Linked DNA regions of Homo sapiens: region 1 is linked to region 2. Evidence: fine-mapped expression QTL. A gene starts in region 2. The other region holds a variant in brackets. All regions are shown on one strand. Distances are from middle to middle. Region 1 overlaps NCOA7 (nuclear receptor coactivator 7). Region 2 holds the start of NCOA7 (nuclear receptor coactivator 7).

Region 1 (5,381 bases), 24 kb before region 2:
CGGGAGAAAATATTTGCAAATCACATATCCAACAAAAGACTAGAATGTGTACAATTCAACAGTAAAAACCTAAACAATTCAATTAGAAAATGGGCAAAAGATAGGAAAGGAGATGCCACTAAAGAAGATACACTATGGCTAATAATAAGCACATGAAAATGTTAAACTTCACTAACCATTAAGGAAATACAAATTAAAACCATAATGAGATATCACTACATACTTATCAGAATAGCTAAGATAAAAATAAAAAATATTGACACCACCAAATGACAATGCAGACAAACTGGATTACTCAGACTTTGCTGATGGGAATGTCAAATGTTACAACCATTCCAGAAAAGAGTATTGCACTTTTTTATAAAACTAAAAATACACTTATCTTTTGACCCAGCAATTGCACTCTCAGACAATTATCTCAGGGAAATGAAAACTCATGCTCATACAAAAACTTGTACATAAATGATTGTAGCATCTAGCATCTTTGTTCATAAATAGCCCAAACTGGAAACAACCTAAATGCCCTTCAATGGGTAAATGACTAAAAAGCTGTGATTCATCCATACTATGGAATGCTACTGTGCAATAAAAAGGAACAAACTATCGATACATGCAACAGCTTTGAGGGATGTCAAGGGAGTAATGCTGAAGGGAAGAAAAAGCTAAATGCCAAAGGTTACATACTATATGATTCCATTCACCTAGTATTCTTGAAATGACAAATTATAGTGGTTGTCAGAGGAGGCAGGCAGATGGAAGGAGTGAGTAGGGATACAAAAAGGTAGCATGTGGGATCCTTTTAATGCAACTGTTCTGTATCTTGACTGATGGTGACCACAGAAATCTACATGTGATATAACTGCATGGAACTAAATACACACAAACACACATACAATGAATGCTCTGAATAAGGCTGGTGGATTGTATCAATATGAATTTCCTAGTTGTGATACTGTACTATGGATAAAGAATACAGGGTATCTATTACTCCTTACAACTAACTACATGTGAATCTAAAATTATCTCAAAATAAAAACTTTGGAGATCTTATTTATTCTAAATATCCTATCTTTCTGGTGCCTCATCCATTAGATGCCTGATGTCTTCCTTCCCTAATCTGGTTACTCTCTGTAGTCATAATAGCAGAAAATATTTTACTACAATTGGTAGTTTAACTTGTGCTTCCCCAAAACCTTATTCATGATTTACTATTCCTAACTGGAGCATGCCTTTTGGAGATGGCCTTATGTTTAATACTGACTCTTATGCTGCATGAAATGGACAAAATATTTTCTGAGTCTTAGTTGCATCACTGGTAAAATGGAGATAAATTAACCGATGTCATAGATTTATTTTGAAGGCAATTAAAATAATAAGTAAAACACTCAGTACATAGTAGGTCCTTAAATTGTTTCTGTCCTTTTCCCATTATCAACCTAAAATCTAGCTTAATTACTAGATAAAAACATCAACAACAAACTTTGGTTTTGGCTCCAAGGCTCATGTTTAGAAAATAATAAATGCATCTCTAATGAGCACAGCCTGGGGACTGGGGATGGAATGAGGCTAAATTCAGTTCTTAACATGTATTTCAATTTAGGAGAAACATAATGTTTTTAAGCCTATGTTCTCTGAGTCTGAAAACATTCTGGCTTATCAAAATGTTTTACAAATGTTTAGCATATAATTCATTTTATTATGTTTAGTGAGTGCCACATAGACATTTAAATCTGTAAATGGTAACCAATCATATACTACATTACTTCTATTCAGATATCAACAAATTTATTTATGTTGGACAAGTTCCAGCCTTAAAAATGACTCTGATTCAAAAATATAATTTCACCCATTTCACCTACCTACAAAAATATTTCTTAGTAATAGACTCCCCACAAGGTGATAAGCTTTAAATGTGTCAGAGATTTTCAGTTATAGTCCAACCTATTAAGCTACAGAACAGTAGGAACAAAGCACTTAGGATTTAAAATTCAAGGTAGGTTGCTAAACATGGGATTTGGAGCAATTTGCAGGTCAGAGCATGACAGCTGGATTCGCTGAGCAACACTGGCCTGAGAGAAGTGTCAAAGCTAGAAAGAGAAGAACCAAATGTTACACTCCTCTAATATGAATAAAATGGATGAAGCAAAGTATAGTTTACTTCTCCTGGTTACCTGCTCTATTTATGAACAAGCACAAAACACAAAATGCGAAGTAATACTTGAGGACAAAGTCCCCTCAAATATTTCTTTAAAGTACTGATAACAATTTTGTAAAATGAATGCTTACCGAGCAAAATAACTTTGTTTCCGTTCCTTCTTCTCTTCCTTGGTATCCATAATACACAATCAAAAGTGCAAAGTATTTGAAAAAGTCCCTCTTTTTAATCAGTGAGTCGTAACCCTGTAAGAAAAGATAACAAAGCAACTGTAAACTTAAAAGTTTACACTGGCCAATGTGAAAAATAAAATGGAGTAGAACTACATGGACTAAAACAAATGAAAAATAAACTTTAACCAGGAAACAGTCACATGAGTCAAATATGAAATGCAAATGTCCATGGGAG[A/G]AACTACAATCAGAATGGAGATGTTAAACTATAAAGCAAAACCTGATGGAAAACCAAACTGCAGTATTTTCCTCACAACTAACAACTATTTTAAAACATGCCAAAATAAAAACCTTCACTGACTTTGGAAGATTGTAGCCTAACTATGTAGATGCTAATTATTTAAAAAAAAATTGAACTCATAATCACTCTTCCCAAGCAATTAATAAGGCATATGTCTCAGATAATTATGTAAAATGGCTCACTTAGGTGTTTTACAAGAATGTTTTTTTAAAAAAATAAAAATAACTTCAGCACTCTATTTTATTTTCGGAAACATGCCAGCAAGTACATCCCACTTGAGCAAATGTGGAAATGAAAGTACAAAGACACAGGAAGCTGTTCCTCAGCATGGCTTTAAACCCTTGCGTCTCCCTCTTCTCCACCCCTGCGACCCTCACCCACGCTTGCCAGCAGTGGCTTAAGCCTATAATATAAAAAAAGGTTGTCTCCAGATCAAGCTTCCTCAAATACCACTTTTATCATGCCACTCCCCTGCTCAAAAATTTCCAATTGTCTACTTATTCAGTGATTCACCAGTCTAAATTTCTGCAGAGCACTAACATTCCTAAAATTTGTCCTTTCACCCTGAAGCAATAGTTTGTTCACCTATCAAATTTAAATCAAAAAAAGCAGGCTGTGCGGTGGCTCACACCTGTAATCCCAGCACTTTGGGAGGCCGAGGCAGGCAGAACACTTGAGATTGGTAGTTTGAGACCGGCCTGGCCAACAGGGTGAAACCACATCTCTACCAAAAATACCAAAAATTAGACAGGCATGGTGGTGCACGCCTGCAGTCCCAGCTACTCCGGAGGTTGAGGCGCGAGAATCGCTTGAACTCAGGAGGCAGAGGTTGCAGTGAGCCAAGATGGCACCACCGCACTCCAGCCTGGGTAACAAAGGGAGACTCTGTCTCAAAAAAAAATTAGTAAATATAAATAAATAAAGCAAAGTGTATTCACAATCAAAATTATTTACTAATTCATTTCAATTCAATAAACAAATTAATCCACAATACATACTACATGAAAGGGAGTGTGATAAGTCCCAGAGGTCAAAGATAAAGACATGATATTTGCTCTAACAGTATATATTGTCTTTCAGGAGAGACACTTAGGATTTCAAGACAATGTGATATGTACTGCTGAAAAATAGACCTCAGGAATACTTAATTAGCTAAATTTAGCCATTTTCTAATGTATATTTTCAAAATATCATTAAAAAAACATATATATAATTTCTATTTGCCAATTAAAAACAAATAACACTTAACACTATGCAAGGCCCACCCCAGGTATCCTGAGCACACACTAAGGTTGTAGGTTAAGAATGGATTTCCGGCCAGGCGCAGGGGCTCACACCTGTAATCCCAGCACTTTGGGAGGCCGAGGTGGGTGGATCACCTGAGGTCAGGAGTTCGGGACCAGCCTGGCCAACATAGTGAAACCCCATCTCTCTAAAAATACAAAAATTAGCCGGGCGTGGTGGCAGGTGCCTGTAATCCCAGCACTTGGGAGGCTGAGGCAGGAGAATCATTTGAACCTGGGAGGCGGAGGTTGCAGTGAGCCGAGACCACTCCATTGCACTCCAGCCTGGGCAACAAGAGCAAAACTCCGTCTAAAAAAAAAAAAAAAAAAAATTGCATTTCCCAGGTAAAGGGTACGAGCAAGCAGGTTTCAATTGAACAAAAGCAAGAAGACAAAATTGTTCCCTTCTGTTCCAGGGTAAAGTGAGCTGAGGATGAAGACATGGGCAGGATCTGGGTCACGGAAAGCCTTGTATGCTGCTCTAAGGAGCTTGGACTTAATCCTAGCTGGCTATGTGCAGCCCACCCCCTTCACTGCACCTTGTCAGAGGCCATCAATTGCTCATGCTGAACCCAGCGGCAGCATTTGCAGAGCCATTACCAAATCCATCAGAGCTGGTCCATGAGATAAAACTAATTTTCTCATCCCCAAGGTACATGGAAGGGCGCCACCAGAGGGTTCTCCATGAGGGAGTGTAGCATAATCAGACGGCAGAGGTAGAGGATTGACGTGAGAGGATTTAAGGACAGGGTGAAGTAGATTCATTAAAAAGAAATTACAGTCAAACTAATTGAGGGAGGAGCACCCAAAACTAGGCAGCAGTAGTTGACATAGAAAGAGGAGGGATGGACTCAAGAAATACTTAGGAGACTGATGAGTTGACATTTGATGAGTCATGCAGTGTAGATAACAAGGAAAGTAAGGAATGAAGGATGTCCTCCAAGTTTCTGCTTCAGGAACTGCGTGGGTTACGGCACCGAAGATCTAGTACAATATACATGAAAAGGGCAGGCTGCATGTAGGACAGGGGAGCAGAAGGAGGTAAGAAATCGGTTGTGGACATTGTGCCTTTGAGACGGCTATGGGATAGTGGAGTTGGAGACATTCACCAGACGTTTGATTACACTGAAAGCACAGAAGGGCAGTGAAGGCTAGAGGAAAGGAATTAGAAATTATCAGCATATGCTTGTGGTTAGGAAGAAAAGGAGAAAAAACAATATGATGATGAGATCACCTTGGAAGCCTGACAACTATTCATTCAGCCCTGTACAGAAACATGGGAGTACACAGTCTCAGCTCTTACTAGTTTATCTTCACATCCCTGACTTGGGCTTCACCCTCAAAGAGTTTTCCATCCAGTCAGGAAAATATGACTGTGCAGATAACTAAACTGTAGGGTAGTAACTTGGGGCTGTCCAATGAATAATACTAAGTAAGAATCCAAAAGATGTGAAGTTCAATTCTGCTTGAGG
Region 2 (5,381 bases):
AAATTTAAGAAGTGTAAAATGTAATTATCTTTATTACAGGAGGGAATTTTGGCTTTGTTTTAATAAATCATAACAAATTAATTTTTTTCATAAGTTCCCTCCCACTGTTGGTTCCTGCAGTCTTATTAACTTTTATAGGAAAGTTTTATTTCCTTATCCATCTAGGAAGAAAATAAGTAGGTTGGAGAAGCAATAGTAATAAAGTATGGCCTACCATATTGTGTAAAAATAAGTCATTTGAGTAATATGAAGTGAAGATGGTAAAGATGCATTAAAATGTCAGAAAGAAAACCTGGGAGCATGCCCAGATAATATTGTTAAGCAGAGACTGAAAGAAGTTCACACTGACTCATGAAATTCATGTGATGGAAAAAAGATGAAATCAAAACAGAAAATGTCATAGTGTAAAAATAAAGCAAATAAAGTTTGATGCAGTTAACCTTGTTTTTCTTTTTTTTTTTCAAAATGATATAACATTTTAAAGCAGGAAGACACTGTATCTTGCAAACCCTCATTTCACAATCCCCTGGCTGTCAAATTTGGAAACTGATGTGTTTCTATACCGAGGAGAAAACAGTTTAAATTGTGTATCTATATCACACATTTTGAATCATTTAAGAATCACAGACACTTCTACATGTTTTATTTCTACTTTTGCCTGTGATAAAAGACATGATAATTAGATCAAACCTGAAAAACTCAACTCTAAAATAAGTGAATACATCACTTATTAACCAAATCATTGTTTCCTCTGGCGTAACTTACAATTTTCTTTAAAACACGACTTTTACTTTTTAAATTGTGTTTGAGAGCACAGTTGAAGTTGGCATGATTACCAGTGAGACTGGAAATTTTGCAAGCTTAGACATGAAATGAACTTAAGAGTTGGGGAGAATTACCTCATAACCTTGATGACATATTACAGAAAGATAGCATATGGTCCTAAAGATGTCAGAATTGAAATATAAATGTTAAAATAACTGAGTTTGCCTATTTATACAAAGAGGCAATTTTTGAAATTCAATTAAATTTCACCGGCTACAGAACAATTCTGTGATTCTAAATTGTGGTTTTTAGATGAAAGCTTGAAACACAGTTCATTCATTCAACAAATAACTAATGGGTACTTATTCTGCATAAGATGCAGAAGATTACAGGATTTAAAAAAAAACAGATTCAAGATTCTGTCCTATTTGAGCTTATACTGAGTCACTTCTCCAAATCTCTATACCTAAGTGACTATAAAATTGGAGCTTACAGTGATGCATTTTTCAAAACTTTAAGCCTTATTGCTGAATATAAAATAAAAAATGATAGTCTGGGAAGAGGGAATCTTGCCAAAAGCTCTGATGTATAAACTTTACACCTAGAGGAGAAAAAAAGCATTAATACATAACCAGTTTCTGAGAAATACAGAGCATAACATCGAGTTGGAAGTTAGGCTGGGCACAAGGCTGCCTCTGCTGGCTGACCCGGTACATCTTTCCAGCAGAATCTCAACTCCCGACACCTGTATCAAAGTTGCCACTCTTAAAACACATCCCTTCACGTAAGCAGAGGCTCCTAAATACTCAGCACAACAATATCCCAGCCTCATCGATCTCCAGAATAATCTGACTTCTAGAAGGACCTTCTCTAAATTGGCCCTAACGTGTTGACGGTAAGGGTTTGCCCCATCGATTTTATATACCAACTAGCTAGCTCTGAAATACACAAAAATCCACAGCGACTTCTACATGCCACTAATAACCCTTTGCCTGTCTACATGTTTTGGCTAGAAAGATGGGAAGAACGCATCTGCTAATCCAGCCGGAAAAACACAGTGACATATTTCCACCTGAGCTGCTGAAAATCCAACGGTCTTCTCCCCAAATAAGCCCCATGCCAACCTGTCCTCCCCACTCTCGTACTGGCGCGCACCCCCACGAGCCCCCCAAGGGGTGGGCGGGGAAGGGTCAATCTCTCCTTCGCCCCCGCTCGGCCTCCCGAGCTCAAGCAGAGGTTTTCAGGTTCACAGGGGGCTACGCCCAGCGCCATTAGCACACCTCCGAGCGCTCCACCGAGCCCCCGGCGGGAGGCAAGTTTGGCCGGTCCTGGACCCTGCTCGCGGCCTCTCGGCGGCAGCATCAGCGGCGGGCGGCGGCGAGGGCTGGGCCCCGCCTCACCACCTACCTACAGGGCGGGGGCGCCGGCTCCTGGGGTCCGGGAGAAGGGGATCGGTCGCATGCATTTCTGGGAGCGGTGGCCTCTGCTGCTGGGCGCCGGGGAGCGCATCCTCTCGGCGGGTGGAAGGAGGGGTCAGGGGAGGACCGTACGCCGAGGAGGAGCAAGAGGAGGAGGCGGGAGCTCCGAGGCGCGCGCCCGCGGGGCCCCGCGTCCGGATCGGGTGTGCGCAGCCGCCGCAGTCGGGGTGTCTTAGGCCTCTTCCCACGCGCGACGCCTCGCCAGCCCCGCAGCTGCGCCCCCCGTCAGGGCATGGGCCGCTACGGGGTCCCGGGCCCGGCTGAAGGCGGGCAGTCACGGGTGGCGCGACGCTGTGCAGACGCCCGCCTCTAGCTCCTCCCGGCCAGTGGCGCGCGCTGCGCCTCACAGCGGTTGCGGGGGCCTGGGAGCTCGCGCCGGGCTCTGCCGCTCGGACTGCAGTTGCGGCATCCTCCCCGCCCCCCGCGACCTCCGAGCTGGGAGGCTGGGCACCCCGGCTACCCGCGGCTGCTGCAGCCTCCGCTGCCGCGATCCCGGCGGCTCCGCCCCGGAGAGCTGCGCGTGCGGCCTCCGCAGGCCTCGGCCCTTTGTGGCGCCTCCCGAGTGCGGGCGCCTTGCTGCCCCAGCGAACCGCCGCCTGGCAGCGGCACCTAGGAGGGTCCTCTTACCTCACCCCGGGCCGCTTCCCCCTTACAGTTGGCCCGCCTGGCCCCTACTCTTCGTGGGAAGTAAGGCTTTGACAGCAGAGCAGGAGTTAGAGCTTTTCCCCAGCTTTAAAGCCCTTTGACTTTCCTTCCAGCTCAGGACCGATGGCCACAATAAATTCATCCTGTGTCCCTTCTGGCGTTGCGTTTAACAGAGGGGCCCACCATCTCCTTCCCCCTCCCGTTCCCGGTACACCATCCTGGATGCTGCCAAATTGCAGTCATTACAGCAATAAGAACATAGCAGTTGGGCCCTCCAGCCGACTCTTGGCAGAGACTCGAGAGAACCTTGGAGGGGGAAGGTTTGCATCAGCTGCGGGGCCTGTGCCTGTGAGCTCCCCATCCCCAGTTGGGTGCTGTTCCCTCTGCGGTCCCATGACCAGCACTGCAACATGACTAGGAGGATCTGGCCGTGGAGTTCATTCACTCTTATACGCAGAAAAATATCCCAAGGAAGGGCCTGCAACTACTCTGTTAACAGTGTGTTACAGGCCTTCCACACAGATAAACTAGATAGCAGCCTCCTCTGGGTTGTTGACGCAGCTTAAGCTGTAATAACCTCTCTGGAAGGCGGAGCAAAGCGTTAACAGTGGTGGCTTTGGCATTTCAGCAGCAGGTGGTCATGTTATACTGTCTTGCAAATGTGGAATAATTGCCCAGTTTTGCACTAAGCACGTATTAATTTAGACGTCAGGTTTATATCTTTGGGATTTGAATGTAAAGATGTTGGATTTTTTTTTTCTGTAGCCATTGTGTTATTTGTAAATTGTTTAGCATTTAGTAAGGGAAAATTAGGTTCCTAAAGTATAAAGAGCTGATTGCATTGTATCAAAGGAACATGGTTTGAGATCTCCAGGGAAGCTGAGCTGCTCTCACAGTTCTTTGATGAGTGCTTTTATGATTTTGCAATCTAAGGTTATTGAAAATCAGGCAAAAGAAAAACATGTTCCCTGGCAAGGACAAATTGTGACTAAATAGCTAAGATTTTTTGAGATAGTTCTTTTAAGCAAATTGAAGGTTGGGTGTGAGGCCCTGTGGGAGCTGCACTGCGCTTGTCCAGGAAGCACCCAGTGGGGTGTGACTTGGCTGCTTCCTGACACTGGTTGATCTAGAGCCCCACTTTATTTTCAAAAGATAACTATTATTATTTATGATATTTTCCCAAACTTAGAATTACTTGATTATAGGAATATGTATGTACATATCTGATGTATAAGTAACACGTTGAAGTCACTTAGGAGAATTTGGCAGTTGCTTACTCTTTAACAAAATTTTTAAGTTTTGAATGTAGTTTCTGAAGGAAGTGTCCATTGACTTACAAGTTTTCCCTGTTTCTCATCCTTTTACTATCAAGAGGCCCCTGTTGTTTTTCTCTCTATGGACTCCATGTTTTGTAAATAAATTAAGCAGTGATGTTTTTATTAGACAAAAACCTATAACTGAGTATGAATTTTTAAAGTTGTGACCATCAATTATAAAACGTCAGTCTTCTGGCCAGGCGCAGTGGCTCACGCTTGTAATCCCAGCACTTTGGGAGGCCGAGGCGGGCGGATCACGAGGTCAAGAGATCGAGACCATCCTGGCCAACATGGTGAAACCGCATCTCTACTAAAAATACAAAAAAAAAAAAAAAAATTAGCTGGGTGTGGTGGGTCCTGTAGTCCCAGCTACTTGGGAGGCTGAGGCAGGAGATTCACTAGAAACCGGGATGCAGAGGTTGCAGCGAGCGGAGATTGCACCACTGCACTCCAGCCTGGTGACAGAGCGAAACTCCATCTCAAAAAAAAAAAAAAGGTCTTCCAAAGATATTGCAAGGAATGTAAGAATCCATCTTTATGAACTCCTCTAGGACTGCATGCTGTATCATATGCTTCTTATAACATTTTTATTATACTGAAAGTCCTGATATAATAAAGATTTCTGCTCCCCAGCTAAGGGAGTACAAACTCCTCCTAAAGATTCTTCACTTGTTCCTTTCCATTAACTGATTTACCTAAGCCTTGGCTTTATAGATAAATCGGAAGAAATGAAACTCTTCCTTGCATGTGTTGTCCAGTACTGTATGCCTTAGCTACTTGTAGCCGTTTAAATTTAAATTATGGCTAGACTGTGCTTTTGGATAGCACAAACTAGAACATTTTCATTATTGCAGAAAATCCTTTTGAACAGTGCTGCCCTAAATAGAAGGTCAAATTTTAATTGGGAGATAAGATATAATACATGAAATAATTTGGGAAATCTTAGTATACTACAGATCAAACCTCAGTAGAAAGTGTACTTCTTAAGAACATGGTAATCTTTAAGAATTCAGGCTCTGGCTTCAGACTACAGCTCCACCACGTGCTGACCTTGGGTAAACTACTTAACCTCAGTTGCTTTATCCGTAAAGGATATGCTTTATCCATAAAGAATGGTAACAGTACCAACTTTATAGGGTGGATATAGGAATTAAAGGAGATAATCCCAAGTGGTTCT

The links.
Region 1: its variant is fine-mapped to the expression of NCOA7 in whole blood (TOPMed, PIP above 0.99).

Annotation. Positions count from the first base shown.
Region 1 is chr6:125,812,310-125,817,690 of GRCh38, reverse strand. NCOA7 (nuclear receptor coactivator 7) reads right to left here. Exons shown (of 16, transcript NM_181782.5): 2 at 2,287-2,400. The coding sequence starts at 2,336. All of the region lies in intron 1 of NCOA7-AS1 (NCOA7 antisense RNA 1), which reads left to right. Among named protein-coding and RNA genes, the nearest start is that of NCOA7-AS1, 3.9 kb to the left of the region's middle. The variant A/G (reference allele first, on the strand shown) is at 2,564.
Region 2 is chr6:125,787,859-125,793,239 of GRCh38, reverse strand. It overlaps NCOA7 (nuclear receptor coactivator 7), which reads right to left and starts at 2,280. Exons shown (of 16, transcript NM_181782.5): 1 at 2,173-2,280. RefSeq lists enhancers at 1,698-1,797, 1,993-2,493, 2,494-2,994 and silencers at 2,018-2,857, 3,448-3,547.